Regions from separate parts of the Homo sapiens genome. Here region 1 is linked to region 2. The links come from fine-mapping of genetic effects on gene expression. A gene starts in region 2. The other region holds a variant in brackets. All regions are shown on one strand. Distances are from middle to middle. Region 1 holds the start of MPP1 (MAGUK p55 scaffold protein 1). Region 2 holds the start of DKC1 (dyskerin pseudouridine synthase 1).

What was found. PIP is the estimated chance that this variant, and not a neighbour inherited with it, causes the effect. A credible set is the group of variants that fine-mapping cannot tell apart.
Region 1: its variant is the best candidate, but not a certain one, in a credible set for the expression of DKC1 in whole blood (TOPMed, PIP 0.72).

Annotation. Positions count from the first base shown.
Region 1 is chrX:154,795,619-154,813,010 of GRCh38, reverse strand. MPP1 (MAGUK p55 scaffold protein 1) reads left to right here and starts at 7,526. Exons shown (of 12, transcript NM_002436.4): 1 at 7,526-7,739. The coding sequence starts at 7,638. RefSeq lists a silencer at 7,402-7,561. The variant T/A (reference allele first, on the strand shown) is at 8,553.
Region 2 is chrX:154,757,931-154,766,175 of GRCh38, reverse strand. It overlaps DKC1 (dyskerin pseudouridine synthase 1), which reads right to left and starts at 3,312. Exons shown (of 15, transcript NM_001363.5): 1 at 3,195-3,312; 2 at 1,210-1,277; 3 at 646-732; 4 at 178-269. The coding sequence starts at 3,210. RefSeq lists enhancers at 2,782-2,881, 3,632-3,691 and a silencer at 3,232-3,531.

The sequences.
Region 1 (17,392 bases), 42 kb before region 2:
TAAGCCAAAGGGAAAAGTCAAGCAGGGAACTGCATTGGGCAAATCTCCCTCCCATTCTATTCCTAAATAAGATAGCTATAAAGATTAATAAATAAATAAATAAATAAATAAATAAATAAATAAATAAGTAAGCTACATACCTCCCTCACAATTTGCCCACAAGGAAATTCCTTGTGAAACAAGTGGCAGGCAGGACTCAAAGTCATCCCTCTACTCACATGACACAAATGCATACCTGATTACTTCTTTTGCCCTACTGTTGCACTGAGCCAGACCAAGACATATTGACTATTCCTGTAAATTGTGTATCCAGTGAAAGGCTAATCAGAAACTCAAAAGAATTCAACCATTTGTCTCTTATCTACCCACGATCTGGAAGCTTCCTCCTCTATTTCAGTTGTCCCACCTTACTGGATGAAACCAATGTACATCTTACATATATTGATTGATGTCTCATGTCACCTTATCAAGTGTCTAAATATGCACAAATCTGTTTCTAGCCTCTCCCTTCTGGTCCATTGGTCTATTTCTGTGCCTATACCACACTCTTAATTACCATAGCTTTATTAAGGTCTTGCTATCTGCAAGACAGGTCCCCCACTTTGTTCTTCTTTAGCTAGTCCTGCTCTTTACAACTCCACACATATTTTGAAATTAGATTGTCAAGTTTCACAAAACATACCTGTTGAGATTTTTACCAGGATTGCATTGAATCTATAGGCCAATTTCAGGAGAACCTACATCTTAATAAAATTAAGCCTTCCAAACCATGAACATGTTTCTCTTTCAATTTTTAGCTCTTCTTCAATGTATGCAGATAGAATTTTATAATTCTCTCCATACAGTACCTATATATGGTTCAACTTATTCCTAGGTATTTGATCATTTTAGATGTCATAACAAAATGGTGTCTTTTAAAATTAAATTTTCTGTGTATCTTTGGTGTATAGAAATACAATTGATTTCTTTGTATGACTGTAGCTAACAACCTTAGTAATAGCATTTATTAATTTTAATAATTTATCTGTAGATTTTTAAATATTCTACAAAGACAATAATATATCCATAGATAACAACAATTTTGTTTCTTCCTTCCCAGTCTTTATACCATGATAATTTACTTTTGCCTTATTCTGCTGGATAGAACTTACAATACGACACAGAGAAAAGTGGTTATAGAGGGAGGCATCTTTGTCTTGTTCAACATGTTAAAGGAAATACATTCAGCTTTTTAAAACTATATTCGTTGTAGGTATTTTAGATGTTTTACAAATAGTTTTTTAAAATCGGTTAAAGAGGGAAGATTTTTTTTGTTTGTTTGTTTGTTTTGAGACAGAATCTCACTGTCACCCAGGCTGAAGGCTGAAGTGCAGTGGCATGATCTCAGCTCACTTCAACCTCTGCATCCTGGATTCAAGCGATTCTCTTGCCTCAGCCTCCCGAATAGCTGAGACTACAGGTGCTTGTCACCTCGCCCAGCTAATTTTTGTATTTTTCATAGAGATGGTTTTTAGCTATGTTGGCCAGGCTGTCTCGAACTCCTGACCTCGGGCAATACACCCACCTCGGCCTCCCAAAGTGCTGGGATTACAGGCATGAGCCACCGTGCCTGACTAAAGATGGTTCTTTCTATGCCTAGATTTGATAAAAGATATTTTATCATTAATGGATATTGAATTACATTGAATATTTTCCACCTACTGAGATAATATGAGTTTCTCCATGAATATGGTAAATTGGATTAATAAATTTTCTAGTGTTAACTAATCTTGAATTTCAGTATCTGAAGTTTTTGGTTCAATTTGGTCACCTATCGTTTCTGCTGGATCTCCCTCACGGGACTTTGTTTCCTTGATTGTTTAGCGATTTATCAGTCTATAAATATGTATGGAATTTAAGGTCTGGTATCAATGAGGACTCCTTCAAAAAGACATATTTTGCTCTGCCAGGCACCTTGGGGCTCTATCAGTCAAGAAAACCCTTGAAGTTAAATTATCTACTTAAGGTTTGTCAGGTCACTCAGGTAGTGCAACTTTGAGCTGCCAACCAGAGCAAGGGCCAACTTATACTTATGAATTCTCAGGGCAGGGTTTTTATTAGTCCCTTGTGGTAGATTCAGTTAGTGGTCCTACAGAAAGTAGATTAGTGGTTGCCAGGGACTAGGAATGGGGAGTGACTACTCATGGGGCTGGGGTCCCCGTGGGTGATGAATCCGTTCTGGAATTATGCTACAGTCTGGATATTTGTGTTCCCCCAAATTCCTATGTTGAAACTTAATTCTCAATGTAATGGTATTCAGAAGTGGGGCCTTTTAGAGGTGGGGCCTTTGGGATTAAAGAGGCCCACCTCTTTGCAATGCAAGCTTGTTTTCCCCCTTCCACCATGTGAGAATTCAGCAAGAGGGCACCTTCTATGAGGAACAGGCCCTCAGCAGACACAGAATCTGCTGGCATCTTAATCTTGCACTTCCAGCCTCTAGAACTGTGAGCAATAAATGCCTGTTGTTTATGAGCTATCCAGTTTGTGGTATTTTGTTATGGCAGCCCAAACAGACTAAGACCAATTAGATAGTGGTGATGGTTGCACAACTCTGTGAATATACTAAAAAGCACTGAATTGTTCACTTTAAGAGTCTTATGCTCTGCTGACTGAGCTAGCTGCACCTGTGAATTGCTCACTTTAAATGGATGAATTTCACGGTATGCAACTGTTATCTCAATTTTTTTAAAAGTACTTGTTTCATAGGATTGTCATAAGACTAAATGAAAGTATGTAAAATACACAGTGACTGTATTCAATGAACAGAAGAAAAAAAAAAGTGCACACCCTTGCCCTGGCCTCATGGTAGGTAGAGAATACTTTCTCACTCCTTGACTGTGGGCTTAGTCATGTGACTTCCTTTGGCCATGACTGTATTCAAGAATGTGTTAATATATTTTAACCAGCATTTTCAGTTGTTTTCAGCAACAGATCATCCAGGTACCTGGTCTGCCATGGTGCCAGAAATTGCCTTTTTTTTGCATTATTTCAATCTGGATTTCAAATTACCAGTTTGGTTGAATAACTTGCCATATTTTTTTTCTGTACTTTTATTTGTATTCCTTTCTATTTCTCATTTTTTCTATTGCCTGTTCATAAGTCTGTTGGTGCTTTTCATTATTTATTTTAAAGAGTTCTTTTTAAAATATTTTTATTTTTTATTTCAAAATTATTTGGGTAGAGGTGGTTTTTAGTTACATGGATAAGTTCTTTAGTGGTAATTTCTGAGATTTTGGTGCACCCATCACCTCAGCAGTGTACACTGCACCCAATGTGTAGTCTTTTGTCCCTCATCCCCCTCCCACCCTTTCCCCCGAGTCCCCAAAGTCCATAGTATAATTCTTATGCCTTTTGTCCTCATAGCTTAGCTCCCACTTATAAGTGAGAACATACAATATTTGGTTTTCCATTCCTGAGTTATTTCACTTAGAATAGTGGTCTCCAACTCCATCTGTGAGTTGCCATTATTTTGTTCCTTTTTATGGCTGAGTAGTGTTCCATGGTGTATATATACCATATTTTCTTTATCCATTTGTTGGTTGATGGGCATTTAGACTGGTTCCATATCTTTGCAATTGCAAATTGTGCTGCTATAAACATGTATGTACAAGTGTCTTTTTCAAATAATGACTTCTTTTCCTCTGGGTAGATACCCAGTAGTGGGATTGCTGGATCAAATGGTAGTTCTACTTGTAGTTCTTTAAGAAATCTCGGTACTGTTTTCCACAGTGGTTGTACTAGTTTCCATTCCCACCAGCAGTGTCAAAGTGTTCTCTTTTCACCACATTCACACCAACATTTATTCTTTTTTGATTTTTTTTTATTATGGCCATTCTTGCAGGAGTAAGGTGGCATCTCATTGTGGTTTTAATTTGCATTTCCCTGATAATTAGTGATGTTGAACAGTTTTTCGTATGTTTATTGGCCATTTGTATATTTTGAGAATTGTCTATTCATTCCTTTGCCCACTTTTTGATGGGGTTATTTTTTTCTTGCTGATTTGTTTGAGTTCCTTGTAGATTCTGGATATTAGTCCTTTGTCATCAGATGCATGGTTTGCAAATATTTTCTCTCATTCTGTGGGTTGTCTGTTTACTCTGCTGATTATTTCTTTTGCTGTGCAGAGGCTTTTCAGTTTAATCAGGTCCCACCTATTTATTTTTGTTTTTGTTGCATTTGCTTTTGGGTTCTTGGTCACGAACTCTTTGCCTAAGCCAATGTCTAGAATAGCTTTGCCAGTGTTATCTCCTAGAATTTTTATGGTTTCAGGTGTTAGATTTAAATCTTAGATCCATCTGGAGTTGATTTTTGTACAAGGCGAGGGATGAGGATCCAGTTTCAATTATCTACATGTGGCGTGCCAATTTTCCCAGCACCATTCGTTGAACAGGGTGTCCTTTCCCCATTTTATGTTTTTGTTTGTTATGTCAAAGATCAGTTGTTTGTATTTGGCTTTATTTCTGTGTTCTGTATTTTGTTCCATTGGTCTACATGCCTATTTTTATACCAGTACCACGCTGTTTTGGTAACTACGGCCTTGTAGTATAGTTTGAAGTCGGGTAATGTGACCTTAGATTGTCTATTTGTGCTGTTTTAGACTTTTTGATATGGGCATTTAATGCTATGAATCTTCCTCTTAGCACCACTTTTGCTGTATCCCAGAAGTTTTGATAAGTTGTGTCACTATTATCATTCAGCTCAAAGAAATTTTTGATTTCCATCTTGATTTCATTGTTGACCCAAATACCATTCAAGAGCAGATTATTTAATGTCCATGTATTTGTATAGCAAAAGTCCTATCCTGAGGGTCTGTTTTCTGAGGCCACCCCATTTCTGACACCTGTTTTCTTAGCCTATGTTTGGTAGAAAGCAAAGCCTGGAGCAAAACATATGTGGTAAATCTTTAGTGAAGGATGCAATCCCATGGGTGTAAGAGTGAGGGAATAAATGAAGTGAGGTAGGGAAGGATGGAAACAAAATATACTTTGGTGTGCTACTGAGTTCGCCACTGTTACTCAAGAAAACACAGCTTATCTCACAGTCTTCCTGAATGCTTCCAGAAGAGTTGTATAGAATCACACCATCTTGAAATGGTTGAGGAAAGGAATTGATCTGCCTACGGGTGTTTGTCTCATTTCTGTCAGTGGTCAAAGTTCACCCTATTAGGTGTTTGTTAGTTTCCTCACACCTCTGAGTTGTGTTACCTTGGTCCTGGTAGTCAGTAGGAAAGCCAGATCCCACACACCACAGTTCAATCCTGAATCCAAAAGTGGTAGGAGTCATCAGAGCCTCCATGGATCTGGTCAGGATGAGCTTGAGTGCAGAAGCTCCTGCTGCAGTGAGTGCAGTAGAGGTCATTTCAGAACCTAGCCCTCACTTTAGAAAAGTGAAGGAGTCAGAAGTGTCAGGAGATGTGAAAACGTCAGTGGCAGTCAGGGATTTCCATTGATCAAGTGCCTGATCGCCTGGGAAGTAGATAAGGCTGAGAAAATATGGAAGGAGTATAAATTGGAGCAAGGCCATCCATACTATGGTTTTCGTACCTGGACAAACAAGGCAACTCTAGTCCTGAATATTTTGCAGATGCACAGAGGGAGACCTGGAAGGTTACAGACCAAACTGGGAATAGTTGTTCCCTCTAGGAGCAGAATTGCTGGCTCAGAGGGTAGATGTATGTTCAACTGTAAGAGATAATGGAAACCCGTTTTCCTTACAACTGGTACCAATTTAGACTCCCACCAGCAATATTCAATAAATCATATGGATTCACATCCTCCCCAACACTTGGTACTGTTAGACTTTTAAATTTTTGACAACTGAATGGGTGAACAGTGGTATTTCATTGTAGTTTTGCTTTGCATTTTCCTGATCACTAATGATGTCGAACATCTCTTTATATGTATGTTTATTGGCCATATGCGTCTCTCTGTTGGTGAAATGCCTATTCATGTGTTTTGCCCACTTCTTTACTGGATTGTGTTTTTCTTAATAATTTGTAGTCCTTTATATATTCGCAATTGGAATTCCTTGCCACTTATCTGTATTGAAAATATTTTCTCCCAATGCACAGCTGTGTTTTTTGCTCTTTATGGTGTCTTCATAAATTAAAATTCTTAAAGTCAAAGTTACCACTATTCCATTCTATGGTCAATGGTTTGTCTACATTGTTTAGAAATCTGTATCCCAAAGTCTAAAAGTTCCTTGCCTATGTTTCCTGTCAAGAGCTTTAAGGGTATGTTTTTGACATTTAATTCCTTAATCCATCTGGAATAGATTATTATTATTTTCCATATCACATGAATGAGGATTCCAATTTCATCTTTTCCAATATAAATAACCATTTTCCAGCGTCAGTTAATAAAATGTCCCTGTTTACTTACCTAACATGCCACTTCTATCATATACCACATTTCTATACTTGCATGGTTGCGTTTCGGGGTTCTCTATTCTATGCCATTGCTCAATTAATCTATCCATGCCTCAATATCACAGTCTTAATTTCAATCTCTCCCCCCCCACCCCACCCCCCCCTCCCCCCCCGTTCGTTTAGAGTGATCTTGAGGAAGGGAACCGTCATTCACATGAGTTCGGCCTCTTGGTAGAGAAAACTGGGCAATGCAGCTCTAAACTGTTGCCCTTGGATTTTCTCCTCTTGGCTATGAGCTCCTCCTTCCCAGGAAGCTTTGAGGAAGGTCAGAATAAGATTACATGTAGTGATGAACTGCTTCTAATACTGTGAGGCTACTAGCTTGGGGTAGGGGACCAAGAGCCGTACAAGCCCATTAAATGTTTGTTTTGTTCAGAAAGCCTTCCATCGCTGTGACTGGTGTTTGAATGTCTCCAATGCGTTAGGATGCTAAGGAATCCTCCTCTAGGGTTACTAAGGAATGTTTGCTGCCTTTGCTTTCGCTGAGCCGGAAAAATTTTGTGGCATTTACAGCAGGAGATCTGCCCTAAGTAAAAACAGTTTGGTTTTGAAGGCAATAAGATGTTTCATCATCAAACAGCACACAACAATTAAATGACAGGGTGCAGCAGCACAGCAGCCTTAAAGGCATTTTCGCAATGTCCAGATCTCAAAGGGTAATGCTGCGCCCGCATCAATTTATGGGAAGAGTCTAGAGTTCACCTACATCTTTTGAACTCCACTAAGCCGGCCGATTCTGATTTCCCTTGTTGCCTCCCTGCAATCCCCACGAATTTGGCCAGGGCACCCGGGCGGCTCAGGCCCAACGGGGCGTGGGCCGTGTGCTCAACCACCCAGAAGCTGGGGGCCCCCTCCCCTTTCTTATCTTTCTGGCATTCATCTCACGCGGCCACCTACAGCTACGACTTCCTCAGGCCCTTTAAGGGCCGCTTCTCGGAGCGCAGGGAGCCGCGGAGTCCGGGGCGTGGGAGACTTCCATGGGCGGAGCGAGGGCAGGAGTGGGCGGGCCGTAGGCGGAGCTCCGTCCGCGCCCTCCCGGCGCACCGCCTGCGGGGCGGTGACTGGCCCAGCCGCACCGCGTCTCCCGCCTTCTCCGCAGCCCCGCAGGCCCCGGGCCCTGTCATTCCCAGCGCTGCCCTGTCTTGCGTTCCAGTGTTCCAGCTTCTGCGAGATGACCCTCAAGGCGAGCGAGGGCGAGAGTGGGGGCAGCATGCACACGGCGCTCTCCGACCTCTACCTGGAGCATTTGCTGCAGAAGCGTAGTCGGCCAGAGGTGAGCGGGCCCCGCTAGTCCCAAGGGCGCTGGGCCGGGGCTCGGCCATTCATCTCGGGACTTTCCCTGTCCCGGTCCCTGTCCCCGGGGGGCCTGTCCTTGCGGGTCCTGGCCATAGGTCGGAGACCGCGATAGCCGGCGGGGTGAGGACAAGGCCAGCGCGCGGCCGGGTTCGTACCGGGCTGCTGGTGCAGTGGATCCTTGCCCCCAGCAGTCCTTCCAGTTGGAAATCAGGAGAGGCAGCGGCCTGGACAGTGCGCTTATTAAGGGCAAGGAAAACTTCCTCGTGGACGGAAGTCAGAGTAACAGAAAGTCTTTAAGGAACACATCAAGGAGTAGGTCTGCCTGGTTGTTGTTGAAGTGCTTGTGTTTGGGTCAGCAGAAATGATTGTAAAAGCCAGCTTCTGGTTCTAAAGAGCTCACTCACTGTTCCTCTTCATTTAGGCAGGTCCCCTTGTGCTATGGTGCAAAGAGGGTGGCCAGTGTATATTTGCGGGTGGAACAAGGAATCCAGATTCCAGGGATGGATGGCTGGTAAATAGCTATTAACCTCCGTCCTCAAAGATGCCCTAAGGGTAGGTTGTGCTTATCTGTTACTGGCAAATCTCTCCCAAACTCGCTGGTTTACAACACTGAGCATTTTCTTGTCTCTCATATTTCGTTTTGATTGGGCCCAGCAAGGTGGTCGTCACTCAGGGTCTGTCAGGTGGGGACACGGCTCACTTACTCATTTGGAGCCATGAGCCATGAGCCAGAAAATCAACCAGCAGCCTCTCCCTGTGGCTTGGTCTTCCTCACAGCATGCTGGCCAGG[T/A]CCCAAGGGGAAAATGTCCAGAGAGAACCAGAGAGCCAGGCAGAAGCTCAGAAGTCACAGCATGAACCTCCTTCCTAGACTGCAAGGTCTTCTAGGGCAGGGCCGTGTCATACTCACTTCTTTAAGTGCCCAATAAGTGGGTCCTCAGAAATGTTTGCTAAATTAATAAATGACTGAAGAGATGGACATTTGGGATTTACAGTAACCCTCCGATTTCACAGATGAAAAAACTGAAGGTCCCTGCAACATAAGGCAAGCAGTAGAGCTGTAGACTCTTTGGGCTAAGTGGCATTAACTCAAGGAAACAAGTAATGGGCATCAGAACTGAGGCTAGATTTTGTGTCTGCTGCACCGCATTGCCTTACCCTTTATATTCCACTCGAGTGAGGCATTCACACCTGCCTGTCATTTCAAATCAGGATTGCAACAGCCTGAGTTTAAATGAGTGCAGAAATAATACAGGCATGAAAGATGCTATTGTTATACAGATGATGAGACAAAATTACAAGTTCTGTTACCTGATTCCCCATAAACTTGGACTTGTGATTTTTTTCTTCCCCACAATCAGTACTCACTTGGCTGAGCCTCAACTATTTTTAAAAAATCTATTTATTTCTGGAAGTCTTATTGAGGTACACTTAGCATACAGTAGAATTCATGAAATTTAATTGTGTAGTTTGATGACATTTGACAGATGTATATAGTCATGTAACGACAACCACAATCATGACAAAGAATAAACATTTTCAAGGTTCCAGGAAGTTCCCCTGTGACCCTTGGCAGTCAGTCACCTTCCTCCACCTGGAACATGGCAACCACTGATCTGTCACTATAGATTTGCCTTTTCTGGAATTTTATATAAATAGAATCCTACAGTATGATGTATTTTGTGTCGGGGTTCTTATGTAAACCTATGTGTTCCCTTATGGGCATGCTTGAAAGACTGTGCCTTTTTGAAAAGAGGCCCTGTCACCACCAGTGTTATGTTGTGGGCACAACCTCTGAGTAAACAGCACGTTTTGTGGGGCTGTGAGTTTATACTGTAATATTGGAGATAGTCTACCAGTTAGCTAATTTGTTTGGTTTTTACTAACGGATTTGAAGAAGATCAAATAAGAAAACTTACTGAATCCCTGAATGAAATAGTATCCAGCTGTGCCAAAGTGAGCATCTGAGGGAGACTCTTCACACGATGAAGTGTGGCTTGACTCCACAACCTGCGGATTCTTATTTCTTTAGGTTCACCTTCCCTTTGGGGCTCTTACCAGTCTTTGCTGCAGCAGCAAGCTCTGCCTTTCACTTGCTGCATGGTTTTGGGCAAGCTGCTGAAGCTCTCTGTGCCTTAGGTTTCTCTCCTTTATGAAACTGGCAAGTTTGGAAGGTTGTGGCAACATTTACATGAGATAATGCTTGACAAGGACCTTGAGCCACACTGGGACATCCAGGGTAATGACCCAGTATCTCCCTAGGAGCTGCCTGCCCAGTAGTAGCAGTCAGAAAGTTTTCCTATAATGGCAAGATTTGAAGCAGGAAAACCTGTGAGGAAGTTGTTGGCTTCAATAGAAATTATAAAATTATTTTGCTGAAAGTTTCATTTAAAGGTGTCACTTTATGGAAAAAGGCTACCGATTCAAAACAAAGTTTCACTTCCAATTATAATCCACATTTAATACTGAAAGAATATTGTCTAAAGGTAATTTTGCAATAGGTTTGAATGTAGCCTATCTCCCCTATTTAAGTATATCTCCTTCCTTGGATAAACTAATTTTTTTTTTCTTTTCAATGTGGTCTAGGCAGGTTAATGGAGAAACTAATTTTATTAGCTCTCTCTGGCCTTGTTCTTCACAGCAGTATCCATTAATGCACATAAAAGTAGTTGTAAAATTCCCAATACTGCTTTTCTCTTCGGGCCTGTTTGAAGCAACACTTTCCCCAGGACCTGAAGCAATTGGTTGAGAATCCCTGAAAATTCTCTTGGGCCTATCCCACATCAAAAAAAAATCACCTAACAGATAAGTCAGGCTCCAGGCAAATTTCCACCAAGAAAACCTGTTTCTTGGTTCTTAGGCCATCACATGCAGCATTACTCCCCGCTGGTGGTCACTGAGTGTGACGCAGTGTTGTTTGTTGCCTACTCCAGGTCTGCTGCTGGAACTAAGAGGCAAATAAGGAAGGACGCAGACATGGAAACAAATACAGTAGTGTGGTGGTGATGTGATAGAAGCAGCTGTGGAGCGCTGTGGAGCAAGGAGGGGCACCCAGCACAGTGGGCTCTTGCATTTCGCAGTACCTAGGCTGTAACTGGCAGGTGGTACCTGGGCAGAGGGAACAGCCTGTGCACGGACACCAAGGTGCATGCCGAGTGCGGCACCTTCTGCGATGGCAGGAGGTTGAGTCTACGGTGTGCATGATCACTGACTCTGCTTCTGACTAGTTATAATTTCACCTGAGAAAGAACTTTCGCTGCAGACTTGGATCTTGCTGTTTCCTTTGCAAAGGAAATGGTTCCGTTCAAGGCTTTTCTTTTCACAGAACTGATACTAGAAAGTAAAGTGTAATTTTCAAATTATTTAGTCCTCTGCCCAATTTCCCCAGTATGTGGTGTGGTCTCAGCCAGTCTGCCTTTCCTGTCCTTCACTTCCAGGAACTTCATGACTTTTTTCTGTTTTTTGTTTTTTTTTTTTTTTTTTTTTTTTTTTTGAGACAGAGTTTTGCTCTGTCACCCAGGCTGGAGTGTAGGGGTGTGGTCTTGGCTCACTGCAACCTCTGCCTCCTAGGTTCAAGCGATTCTCCTGCCTCAGTCTCCCAGCTAGCTGGGATTACAGGCGCCTGCCAACACGCCTGGCTAATTTTTGTATTTTTGATAGAGACAGGTTTTCGCCATGTTGGCCGGGCTGGTCTCGAACTCCTGATCTCAGGTGATCCGCCTGCCTCGGCCTCCCAAAGTGCTGGGATTACAGGTATGATCCAGCGCCCTGGGCCTTTCATGACTTTTTTTTCAAAACTGGAAGGGCTTAGGATACCTTGCAGATAAGAATCTGCTTTTATTGTGGCTAAGCAGATTTGAGTTTCATCATGAACGTTCTATTCTTTTCTAACTCATTTGTTCTCCCTACACAAGACACTGAAGTATAATAGAATACCAGGAACAGATATTTCAGGTTAAGATCAATTCCCTTAAATTGGAGTTTGCCAACCTGGGCACTGTTAACACTTTGGGTCTGATAATTCTGTTGTAAAAAGTAATACCTCGCCGCTAAGTTGTGACAATCAATAATGTCCTGAGACAGTGTCAAGAGGGGAGACAAAATTAGTTGATGCAGAGATTTTTCTCCTAAGCAGTGAGTTGTCTCTAACCTTTCAGTGTTGCTAAAAAAGAACTCTGGGTGTGGAGTGTAGAAAGGCAAGACTAAATAGCCATATTTCCAAAATTGGCTGGGGTAGGGGAAGTGACGCCAGAGGAGGGGAAGAGGAACTTTCGTAACATAGTCTTGCTTTTCTTTTTTTCTTTCATATGAAGAAATATACATGAACAAAACACATAATAGGTTTTCCCTCAAAAGTTATCTTCCTTGCGAGGCCTTTTCTGCTTTATTTTCCTCCTTAGCACCTGCCATCATCTCTGAATATTCTGCACAGTGCAGAGGCAGCCTTTATGTGAGGGACACAGCACCTGCATTCTCTCCATGTACCTGCACAAACTCCAAAGTCCATGCTTATAGTTTAACTTCTGGAGTCTGAGGCTTACTCATCCTTTAAGCTCAGACAGGTTTCTGAACCATTTCATGTCTTCAAATATTGACCACAGAATGGGGATGAGCATTTGATTTAACGAGTGTTGTTATTTGCACACAGCTCCGGCACTGGTTTAATGGCAGTGTGGGGACTCAGTGCCAGGTATCTGCAGCCCTGTGTTTCTGCTGTGTGGAACGGTGCTACTTGAGTTTCCTGTTGTTTTTTTTCCCCAGTGGAAGCAAAAGCCTTTGCATGTGTACTGAGAGCATGGGGTAGAAAAAGCTCGTTGGGAAGGGATCTCTAGAGACTTGGCCTTTAGGTTGATGTATGTGTTCCCAGATGGATTTAGTACCTGAGAAGCAAAGCACCTGGTTAATGTATGATTTTAAGACAGTACCTGCCAGAATATCCTGGCTCTTAGGCCTTCCTCTCTCCCTAGTTCCTGTCATTTGTGGTTAAACAGTGCTAATCTCTTTCTAATACTTCAGAATACCCTTGGCTTTCTCAGTTTCTCTTGTTTTTTCCCAAAGTGGAATAGGATACTGCCCATGCAAAGAGAGGGAATTTGCGAGCACCTGGGGCCAGGGCTTGCTGGGCAGCTGTCTGGCATCATCTCGCCTTCTTGGACTTGGCTTTCTAAGTCTCCACGTGGGAGCAGTTGGCAAAGAGCCTAACAGTAGGCTGAGCAAATATTTGTTCTTTCCTATGTTCACTGTCACTTAATCTAATTGTTTGGATTAGAAAGCCAACTTCAGTTGCCCCTGCTCTATTCACCCCCGCCACCGCCCGCCCCCCGCCAAGTTTGTTTTTCATCTCTTTTTAAATTCCAGCTTCCTTTGAGCAACTGCCTCTGCCCTTTGAACCCTGCTGCAGATGTTTCCTCTGAAGGGGCTTTCAGAGCGGCAGGCATTGCCACTCCAGCACTTTGTCTGATTAAAGGCCAGAGGCTGCAGAACAAAGGCCAGACATGGAGTCCTGGGTGAGTGTTTATTCCCTGGCTCCTCCTGAATCCCAGCAGTCATCCTTAACAGAGCCACTTCCGCCCTGCCTTGTCACTGGTCAGGGGCAGGCCTGCCATAGCTCTGTGGCCTCCTATATCCACTACAGATGATGGTGGCTGCTTTGAGAGGATGATGTGGAGGTTGTGAACTGAACTCTGAGAAATAGAATCTAGTACCTTTGACCTTTATTATTTGTTCAGCATTACTCATGTCACTGACAGTATATGTCTGCATATCTTTTCTCCTATGATGTGTCAGTAATGAGGAGACATGGGGACTAGTTGAAGGAGTTCTGTAAGATGAGGTCACAGAGAGCTGACCCTCCCTTTCTGAGAGTCTCATGAAGACAGGGTGGCTCAGGGACAAGTTCACGGTGGAGAAAATTGTGCTTTGCTTTTGGAAAACTTACTGTTGCAAGTGTGTACTTTAGTTACCACGTTGGAAGTTTCCGTTTTTCTTAGTCATCATTTGCAACTTCTGGGTAAGCGTGATAGTGACTCTTAGTCATCGTAAAGAGGAACGTCTTGTTGGATAAGCACATCTGAAAGACCAACCTTTGGGATGGCAACTCTTGAACTTTTCCAGCTGGAATGGTTCTGCCTCTAGTAAGCTTTGCTGAGTCTTTAATTTAAAGGCTGACATGTAAAAAGCAATCACTGTAATAAAGCTGGATAAGAAGAATATGACATAGCTAGGCATGGTGGCTCACACCTGTAATCCCAGCACTTTGGGAGGCCGAGGCGGGCGGATCACCTGAGGTTGGGAGTTCAAGACCAGCCTGGCCAATGCGGAGAAACCCCATCTCTACAAAAAATACAAAATTAGCCGGGCGTGGTGGTGCATGCCTGTAATCTCAGCTACTCGGGAGGCTGAGGCAGGAGAATCGCTTGAATCCAGGAGGCGGAAGTTGTGGTGAGCCGAGATCGTGCCATTGCACTCCAGCCTGGGCAATAAGAGTGAAAGTCTGTCTCAAAAAAATAAAATAAATAAAATAAAATAAAATTCCTCTAGCCACCACCACAATGAAGATAGAGAACTGTTCCATCCCCACAAAGGCCTCTCTCCTGCTGTCGCTTTATAGTCACACTTGTCTTCCTCCCTACCCCATCCCCGCAACTCCTTGCAGTCACTACTCTGTTCAATGTCTCTATGATTTTGTCATTTTAGGAATGTTATATAAGTGGAATCATATAGTATGTGATGTTTTGAAATAGATTAGCTTTCTTTCAGTCAGGATAATGCCTTTGAGCTGGATCCCAAGTTGTTTTAGTATCAATAGTGTTTTTTGTTTTAATTGCTGAGAAGTGTTCCATGGTATGGATGTACCACGCTTTAACTGTTCACCTGTATTTTGGTTCTTTATAGATTTTGGCTGTTATAAATAAAGCTGTTATGAGCATTCATGTACAGGCTTTTGAGTGAACATAAATTTCCATTTCTCTAGGTGAATATCCAGGAGTGTCATCCCTGGGTTTTATGGTAGTTGTGTGTTTGGTTTTTTAATAAAGTGTTCAACTATTTTCTATGGAAGCCATATCACTTACATTCCCACCAGCAATGTATGAGATGCCCAATTTTCCCTCAGCTTCACCAGTTATGAGTATTGTCACTATTTTTTTATTTCAGCTATTCTGATAGATGTGTAGTGATATATCATTGTTGTTTTAATTTGCATTTCTCCCTGATGGCTAATGATGTTGAATATCTTTTTATATCCTCATTTGCCATCTTTATATATCCTCTTTGGTGAAATATCTGTTCATGTTTTTTGCCCATTTTCTAATTAGATTGTTCGTTTTTACTGTTGAGTATTGAGCACTCTCTTTTTATATTCTATATACCAGTCTTTTATTGGATATGTGGTTTGTAAATGTTTCTCCCGGTCTGTAGCTTGTATTTTCACAATCTTCATGTGGGCTTTCACAGAACAAGAGTTTTTCATTTTGATGAGGTCCAATTTACCAATTTTTCCTTTAATGGATTCTGCTTTTGATGTCATGTATAGGAACTTTTTGCCTAGCTCTAGATCCTGACAAGTTTCTTCTATTTTTTTCAAATATATTTTCTAGTTTTGCACTTTACATGTAAGTCCATATCCATTTTAGAAGGTAAGGTTCAGGTCAGCATTTCCCTTTTTGGTGATGAGTTTCCAATTGCTGCAGCACCATTGAGTTGCTTTTGCATCTTTGTTAAAAATCAACTGGGCATATCTCTGTGGGTCTGTTTCTGGGTTCCCTATCCTGTTCCCTTGATCTGCATGTCTATACCACATAGTCTTTACTGAGACTATACTACAGTAAGTTTTGAAACTGTGCAGACTGAGTCTTCCTACTCTCTTGTTTTTCAAAATTATTTTAGCTTTTCATGGGTCTGTACCTTTCCATCATGTATACGTGCTTTTAGTGTAACCTACATGGACCAAGTGAGTGAAAGCACTCGTGTATGAGAAAAATAACACCCCAGATATAGGGTGATCGGTAGCCAACACTGGCTTCTGGCTGAGGCATCAGTAAGGAATGTGAGAGCTGGGGCCACCTGGAGAGCGATGCCAGATCTTCTGATACTTTAAAAAGAAGTTGGAGTCCCCTGATTTTTACTAAACAAAACAGAGACATGTGGTCGAAATAAAACAGTTTGCAACTTCTGCTTTGGAGATTTTTTCTTTTCTTTTTCCAGAGATAGAGTCTCGCTCTGTTGCCCAGGCTAGAGTACAGTGGTGCTATCATAGCTCACTGCAGCCTTGACCTCCTGGGCTCAAATGATCCTCCTGCCTCAGCCTCACGAGTAGCTAGGACTACAGGCACATGCCACCACACCTGGCTTGGAACTTTATGTAATGCATTCACTCCTTCATTTATTGTCCAACCAATGCAGATCCTACTTCTTGACTCCCCACTTTGTAACAGAACAAGATTACAGGCCTCTTCCTTTCGATTTTTCTCCCCTTTTTACCTGCCAACTTCCTATCATGGACATGTGTACCTTAATATTGTCATGGTGCTGATATTTACAGTCTGTTATTTGTTTCATGATTTGTTTCTAAGTGAGTTCTAAAAAGTAAAAATCAATAAGTGGTTTTTAGATTATTATAACTGGTTGCCAATCCAACATCCCACTTCTCACTTACATATCCCTGATCTTGTTTGGGATGGCAAGATGCTCAACTAAACTAATCTTCCCAGCCTCTTTGGCTGGTGCCTCCTGTATGCACATTCTAGGCTCTAGCTGTCTCAACTCTCCTTGGTCATTCCTCCATCTGCTTTCTGTCTTCTGGAAAGCTATTGAAATCTTGGCCGGGCATGGTGGCTCATGCCTGTAATCCCAGCAGATTTGGGAGGCCGAGGCAGGTGGATCACTTGCGGTCAGGAGTTCCAGACCAGTCTGGCCAACATGGTAAAACCCCGTCTCTACTAAAAATACAAAAATTAGCCAGGTGTGGTGGCGCTTGCCTGTAATCCCAGCTACTCGGGAGGCTGAGGCAGGAGAATCGCTTGAACCCAGGAGGCGGAGGTTGCAGTGAGCCGAGATCACGCCACTGCACTCTAGACTGGGTGACAGAGTGAGACTCTTTCTCAAAAAAAGAAAAAAGAAAAGAAAAGAAAAGGAAAAAAAACAAAGAGAAAGAAATCCTTCAACCCTGATGACTTTTTGTGGGTTTCTATTTCCCTCCTCCCGTTTACTCTTACTTAAACAGGGTCAAGGTTGAGGCAGGACAAGATCCACACAAGTACTTGAACCTGAGTCCCAATCACTTTGGAAAATTCTTTTACTAATTTATTTTATTAAAGTAACACAAGCACATAATACATAATTTAAAAGGTATAACTTGATACACAGTGAAAACAATTTCCTTCTCACCCCATCTTATAGCCACCCAGTTCCTCTCCCTAGAAGCAACCACTGTTTCTTATGTCTCCTTCCAGACATAGTTTATGTATTTTCATTTATTTTATTTTTTGAGACAGGGTCTCACTCTGTCACCCAGGCTAGAGTGCAGTGGTGTAATCACAACTCACTGCAGCCTTGACCTCCCGGGCTCAAGCAATCCTTCTGCCTCAGCTTCCCGAGTAGCTAGGATTACAGGTGCACGCCACCATGCCCGGC
Region 2 (8,245 bases):
TAATGCTCCAGTGAAACAACAAATCTGAAAAGTTAAAAAGAAAAATAATTCACTGCGGGTACAGGTTATATATTCAAGACAAAGCTATTCTGGCATGCCACTGCCTTCCTGAATAGCTGATGTGAAAGCATTTTCAAAAGAAAGTAAGTTTGCACAGTGCCTCCTCCCAACACTTACCTGATATAGTCCCCAATCTCTCTCTTCAGAGGATTTGAACCACATGCAAGAGGTGTATAGTGTGTTGTCCTTACATTCAGCTTATCAAAATTCTACAAAGCAACGACACAACACAAAACAAAATACCATGTCGTGAGCACATGTAAAAAAAGAGTCAGTACCACTATGTGGCCCACAAACTGGCATAGGTCTGCAAGATGGACTAAGTACAAAAACTGAGAACTGTTGACAAACTCAGCAATTTAACATTGTGGGGACATGTGTTCTACAACAGTGTTGAGTGCACTGCCAATTTTTTAAAAACTTGGTTCTCATTTCAGATACCTTAAGGAATCCTGCTTTAAACTGTATCAGTGGGCACTTCCCAAAGTCAAGGATGCCAGCAGTAAGCATTCTCAATCAATTGTTTAACACTTGGAAATAACGTAAAAGCAGGCATTCATCTGATGCACGATTTTAACCACATACCTTTAGCAAAAGGGGCCACTGAGACGTGTCCAACTTAGCAACTTTGGATTCAGGTTTGATAAGAAATTCTTCAGCGTGTTGTATTTCCTTCGACAGGACAGAAATATAACCTATTAAACTTCCCACCCGATTTTGAACAATTCCATTACTGCCATGGAAATGTATGCCTTTTAAACAGAAAACAAGGCTTCCTATGCCTTTTCACTGGGACCTCCAAGGGAAAGAGAGAGAAGAAATGAACCAGGAGTACAGAGGGGAAGTGAAATGTCACTAAGATGGGTCCAAACATTTAAAGAGAAAGGGGGATGGCGGGTCTGTGGGTGGCATAAGGAAGACAAATTCAGAGACAGCAGTTGGTAAGGCCAGCACCATTTAGTAAGCTATGCCTGAAGGACACTTGGACTGTCTGGGGCTGTGTCATTTCAGTGCTTTTTCGAATCTACACAATGACTACCAATGCTGGCCCATTCCTTGGAAACCTTTAAAAACACTTCTTTCCTTTAGTTTGTTATTTAAGTAAACTTTCTTTTTAGTCAAAGTGAAGTCAAACACATTACTACTCACGGCTACATCTTCTTCTGGCAATGACTTCCGCTCCTTTTTCTTCTTATGTTTCTTTGGCAAAATAATTACTAAAAAAACAAACACAGGATTTGGGAATTTTCCCCAAGAATAAATGAAACAAGGGTTTAAAATAAAGACCGAAATTAGGGCAGGTAGGAAATGGATTTTAGGTCTACAATTACAGTCACATGCCACATAATGTTTTGCAAGTACAGACTGCGTATGTGATGGTGGCCCCCATAAGATTATAACAGAGCTGAAAAATTCCTATCTCCTAGTGATGTCTTGATGATCCTGACCCTGTGTAGGTCAAGGCTACTGTGTGTGCTGTGTTTGTGTCTTAGTTAACAAAAAAAAATTTTTTAAGAAAAAAATTAAAAAATTTTAAAATAGAAAACTTATAAATAAGGAGATAAGCAGAGAAAATATTTACGTACAGCTAAATAATGTGTTTGTTTTAAGCTAAGTATTATTACAACAGTCGAAGTAAAAAGTTTATAAAGTTACAGTAAGCTAAGGTTGATTTATTCTGAAGAAAAATATATTTTTATAAATTTAGTGTAGCCTAGGTGTACAGATTATAAAGTCTCCAGTAGTGTAATGTCTGAGGCCTTCACATTCAGTCACCGACTCAACCAGGGCAACTTCCAGCTCAGCAAGCTCCATTCATGGTAAGTGCCCTCCTCTACGGGTGCACCACTTATAACCTTGTGTACTATATATATATAATATACATACATATAATACATACATATATAATATACATATATACACACACATATTTATATATATATATAATTTTTTTTTTTTGAGACGGTCACACTCTTTCCCCAGGCTGGAGTGCAGTGGCAGAAACTCGGCTCACTGCAACCTCCTTCTCCAGGTTCAAGCAATTCTCCTGCCTCAGCCTCCCGAGTAGCTGGGATTACAGGCGTATACCACCACGCCCACCTAAATTTTTTGTATTTTTAGTAGAGACGGGGTTTCACCATGTTGGCCAGGCTGGTCTTGAACTCCTGACCGCAGGTGATCCGCCAGCCTGGGCTGGGATCACAGGCCTGAGCCACCGCGCCCGGCCCTGTGCTATATTTTTACTGTCCTTTTTCTGCTTAGACATGTTTAAGTACACAAACTCTCGACGCTGTGTCCCAACTGCCTACAGCATTCCGCACAATACCATGCTGTCCAGGTTTGAAGCCTAGGAGCCATACGCTACACCATATACAGCCTAGGTGTGTAGTAGCCTATGCCACCTAGGTTTGTGTAAGAGCCCTCTGATGTTCACACAATGATGAAATCGCCTAACGACCCATTTCTTAGAACGTATATCCGTAGGTAAGCGAGAAAACAAGGTGTGTAAGGCCAAATGTATGGGTCCCATGGCTGGGTAACTGACTGTAGGCTACTGCACGTGTCGGCTTCCCTTCCGGTTCACCACGTGGCTATGGCAGAGCTTAAACATCCCACAGAAGCGCTCACGCAGGGGGCCGGAAAGTTCCATAAGCGACCACTCGACTGTCCCCGCGGGCTTGTGGCCTCTAGAACTTTCTTGCAACTCGGAGCTCTATCCCTGCTCCGGGGTCCCTCCGCTCCTTTTCTTCTCGGCCCGTTTCCACTACCCTTGCTCCCCTAGTCGCATGGAGCTGTAACGGCGGCGTCCGGGCTGGCAGCAGCACAGACACTGCCACGTCCCACGCCACCGCGGGGTGGGCAGCACGGCAGATGTCTTTCGACGGCGACCCGGACCCCAGGGAGGTGAGAGGGCCGAGCCCCATCATGCCAAGTCACCGCGAGGGGCTCCCACTCTCGCGCCCTTGCCACGGAGCCAGGGCCGAGAGACAAGGCCGGCTTAAGGCCGGGCGGTGAAGAGGCCGACACGCCGGCGGGAACCAGAGGGAGGCGTGCGCGGGCCCCGATACCATCCCCCCACCCCCGTTCCCCGAGTCGCCCGGAGTTAGCACGGCCCGGAAGCCTGCAGCCCTTACCTTCCGCATCCGCCATGTTACCCTGCACCGCGTGCGTGCCGCCCGGTCCACAGCCGAGGGAACGACCGCAGACTCCCGCCGCCTTGGTCCCGTCAGGCCGCGCTGCTAGGACCCACCCACCCGCGCACTGCCCTGTGCGTGCCTTGCCGCGGGGCGGGAGGAGGCGGGGCCATCCCGGGGGCGGAATCCGAGGCGCCCGCTGGTCGTCTGCGCAATGCGATTTGCTGGCTCGGCCAGTACGGAGGGCGAGACCGCGCATGCGCTTCGAGCCTCAAGCAGCCTGGTTGGCCCAGGCTGGAAGCGCGAGTGCCGCCCGCCCCGACAGCCCGGAGTCTGTGGGCGTGGCCCCAGCTGTAGTTGCTTCACCTCCGGGTTTAGCTCCGCGCCTGCGCCTGGGCTCACGGCTGAACGCTCCGTAAACAGTACCTCTTTCTTTGCTTTCTCACACCGACCCTTTCAGGTTGCTGTTGGATCAGTCCTGATGCATAAGTGAACATGTTGAAGCTCGGAGAGGTTGAAAGGCCTTTGCTGCTTGCAGTTCCCATCCAGCTAGAGCAGATGGCCAATAGGAGTAGTGTGCGTGCCACATGTTGACTTTTAAATTTTCCAGCAGCAACATGAAAGAAGAGTAAAAAGAAAAAGGTGAAAATGATTTATAATGAATTTTTTTAACCCAGCGTATCCGAAATATTATCATTTCCACATATAGGCAAAACACAACAGTATGAATGGGGTATTTTACATTGGTTTTTTTTTTTTGTCCCCGCAAAGACTTTCCGGTGTGTGCGTTTATGCTCACAGCACACCTCAATTTGAACTCTACGACCGGGCTTCACGCCAAACAGCAGAGACAAAGCACTGGCACTAAATCTCATAGAAACAGGATGAGCCTGGGTATCATGATAGGCAGCAGGGCTGGAAGCTGGAACCAAACTGATTTCTCCCCAGGGATCTTTGGTGGTGTCTAATTGATCACAGTGTCCTGTAGTAAGCCATCATGATCTGTATAACCCCGGTAACTCTAGGTCTGGCTAAAGGCATTCTGCCTTGAATCACCACAATGGAAAATCATGGTGCCTCATCTAATTCCCAGATCTAGTCAGTCCACAGGCCAGAGCCCGTGAGGTGAGCCTGTAAAGGTGAGGCCAGGCACATGTAACGCTACAAGTGTGTACTTTCAGCCTGCCTCCTCCCTTCTCGTGGGACCCGTGGCCATTTACCAGGGGCTTGCACTAGCCCGTGTGAATCACTGGGGAAGTAGAATGCCACTTGGTCCAATGGTCAGAAGTGGAGTCAGCCCACGTCCCTTTCACTATCAGCCACCCTGTGGCTCTTTCCCCGGTTCTTGAATCCATACTTGTAATAAACACAATTGGTAGCTGGATAAATTCCCAGAGGGGCTTCCTGACTCAAGGACTGAGGGTGATAATGGAAGGAAAGAACAAAGGAAGCCTCTGGCACATTATCATAATTGAGTCCCTGGGAACTGATTTGATCATCTCACTGTACCCCAAGACATCATGCTGAGTGGACCTGATGCATAGGAAGTGGCAAATATTTCACCACAAGGTGAGAGAGAAGCCCCTTGAAAATTCAGGGAGGTGATACCTCAGTGAACTTCCTGGGCATGCAGTGGGCTGAGGCATGTTGAGACGGTCCCTCCAAAGAGAAAGACAAGTTGCCTTACTTGGAACCCTCTGCTTGCTAAAAAAGAAGCATGACACTCAGTGGGCCATTTTCTGGAGATGGCATACCCCATTAGGATGCTACACAGAGCCTTTTCCAAGCTTTAATAAGAGACTCACAGTTCAGCCCTCTGGAATTTGAAATAAACTTAAAGCTAAGACCTCCACACACAAAAAATAATAATTTGCCAGGAGGAAAAGCTCCTGGCTTGCTGTAATTATTTACTGAAACGGAATGACTGTGATACATGTGGTCTTAAGACCTGACCTGCCCATGATAAACTGGGTGTTGTCTGACCAAACCATGAGTACCATCAAGTACAATGATGCAGCCACTTTAGAAAATGGTCTGGCAATTCCTTGAAAGGTTAAACACAGAGTTACCATATGACTCACCAATTCTACTCCTAGGTATAGACCCAAGAGAATCGAAAATGGATTTTTAGATAGATGGTTGTACACATATGTTCATAGAAGAACTGTTCACAATAGCCAAAAGGTAGAAACAACCAAAATGAACAGATGAATAGATAAACAAAATGTGGTCTATTCATACAATGGAGCCGTAAAAAGGGATGAAGTACTGATCCATGCTACAACATGGATACAACATTGAAAGCATTATGCTGAGTGAAAGAAGCCATTCACCAAAGGCCACATTTTGTGTGATTCCATTTATAGGAAATATCCAGACTAGGCAAATCTAGAGACAAAAAGCAGATTAGTGGTAGCCTTGGCCTAGGAATTTAGGGGAACATGGGGAATGACTGCTAATGGGCACAGAGTTTCTTTTTGAGGTGATAAAAAAAGGTTCTAAAATTACATTTTGGTGATGGTTGCACAGGATTTCAAGAATTGTGGGATAGGATGGCCACTCATGATGGTTTGGGATCATCTAAATGACAGCCAAATTCCTCGAATTTTTGGTTTGGGTCACAGAGGGAATTTCTATAACAATGCTTAAGGAATTACTTATCTTTTACAGGCACAAGAATAAAACAACTAAAAACCAAACTTTAAAATTTTGACCCATCACCTTTCCAAATTACAAAACTCAGTGAGTTCGCAGCCTTCTCAGTTCTCTTAGTAAAGGTTGGGGCCACGATCAGAAAAGCATAGAACACTGGGATTTGAAATGGGAGTAAATTGGAGAATTGGGAGTCCCCAGAATCCCCAACTCTTACTGAGCCTCCATTGTTAAACAACCCCCACGTTTATCTGATTGCAGGTTCCCTTACTGTCTCATGAGGGAATTAGCAGGGAAGCAAAGGCACTTCCCTCCTACTCTCCCACCCCAATGTCTCCAGGCCTGTAACTAGAGTTAACCTCTACATTGCCTCAACTGAACAATTTAAGTCATGCAGCAGGAGAAAGCTTGCATATGAAAACAGTAGTAGGAGTTTGCAAACATGTACCAGGAAACAGGTAATATTTATGTAAATGATATGTGAAGGTTCTTGACCCAAAAAGAGAGAAGATCATTTTAAATCAGGCTGATTTCTTGGTATAGACGCTGGAATAGAGGTTCATGTGGAGGTGATGCCTGGACCAAGAAGCCTATCCCAGAGCTTTAACTGCAATGGACGATAGAGTTCAGGTGAGAGTGTACAAGGATTGAAGGAGGTGTTTTGCTAATAAATGCTGTAAGCTACTAGATTCCCATCCCAGATTATTTTTCACCACATTGTTTTCACCACATCTAGCCAGGTAACCAAAACAAAATTCTTGCATTTGTCTGAATGCAAGACTCATGGAAGACTTTGCTTCTAGTACCAAATCTTGTGCCACTTAGAAATGTTTTGTTTGGAAGTACAAGAAACAGACTGTTATTATTGGAAGGGTATTATAGACTGTGGGACTCAATAAAGAACAGGTTTAAAGAGTGGGGTGAGTGAACATTAAGGGTAGGCCTCAAAATTGTTTATGTCTCATCTCTCACCTTCACAGCACCACACCACACCAAGTTATACCATTAAATAAGACTTTAGTGGATGTTGGCAGAGGTAAAAACTGAAAATCACATTTAAAGAAAGGCATGTGAAACAATAGCTCTAAATATCTTTTTGTACTCTAAGAGAAAAGCCCCTAACAATGCCCTGCATGGATGCTCTTTAGTTCCCAGCCTGCTCTCCTGCCCTCAGGTCCTGTAGGGTTATACTGCTTCTAAAACGTTTCACTAGGTCATGTGTGGTAAGCACTGTTAGTTGGCTGCCTAACAGACATCCCTTTCCTCTTCTTTCTCCATAACAGAGCCCCAGTTTTGGCCAGGACAGCACTGTGCCCAGCAGCAGGGCAAGCATCACAGTCGCTCTAAGCCAGTCAGATCCTTTGTCACATCATTTACTGGCCTCTCTTGCAGTTAGGGTGGCCATGCGGCACAATTCTGGGCAACGAGTTGTAACTGGAAGTCAGCTGGAGAGGGGAGGATTGGGTAATGGCAATGAGGAGCCAGAAGTGGCCAAGTGGCTCTGTTTGCAAGTTAGTGGAGCGATTCTCATAAGTGGAAGCATGTTTTTCTTGGGTACTAGAATCTAAACCAGCCAGGTACAAAGTCATGAGGTTGAGAAGCAAAAATTCTGAAGGCAGATTATTCAGCATGTCTGTGAGATATGCCATTCCCCACCTCAACTCTGTTTTCCAGACCTCTTATATTCTGACCATGAGAAAAACTGCACCATTTAATGGTTTCTAGTTCAGCGTATGGTCCAGATCCTCACAAGAGTGTTGTGTCCCAACTAGGAACACAGCAGAATCTTCAACAGGCCATTTTATCATTGGCCAGATCAACGGCTGCCTACAGAATGTTGGAAGAGGTATGGAATTGTTTTAGCAAATAGATCACACCTGTAACCGTAGCAGCACTTGAAATAACCACCTGATTATGCTTTCAGTAATCCACAGTCGTTTAATGTCCACAGTTTAGGTTTCTACTGCTGCATAACAAACCATCCCCAAACTTAGTGCCATTAAACAGCCATTTCATTGTGCTGACAGGTTCTTCAGGTGAGAAATCAAGACAGGACACAGTGAGAATGGTTTCTCTTTGCTCTGTAATGTCTGAGGTCTTGGCTGAGATGACTTGATGGATAGGGGTGACAGGATGGCTGGAGGCTATAATCTTCTGGAAGCTTCTTCACTAACATGCCTGTTGCCTATACTAGGATGGCTGGAAGGCTGGGTTCCACTGGAACTTGAGCACCTACTACACACAGCCTCTCTTTATGGCGTGGCAGCCTTAGACTAGCTGGAGTCTGTACTTGGTGGCTCAGGACCTCCAAAGCAAGGGTTAGAGTGAAAAAGGCAAAAAGCTGCATCACCTTTTATGACTCGGCCTTGGAAGTCTCATCATGCCATTTTTGTTGCAGT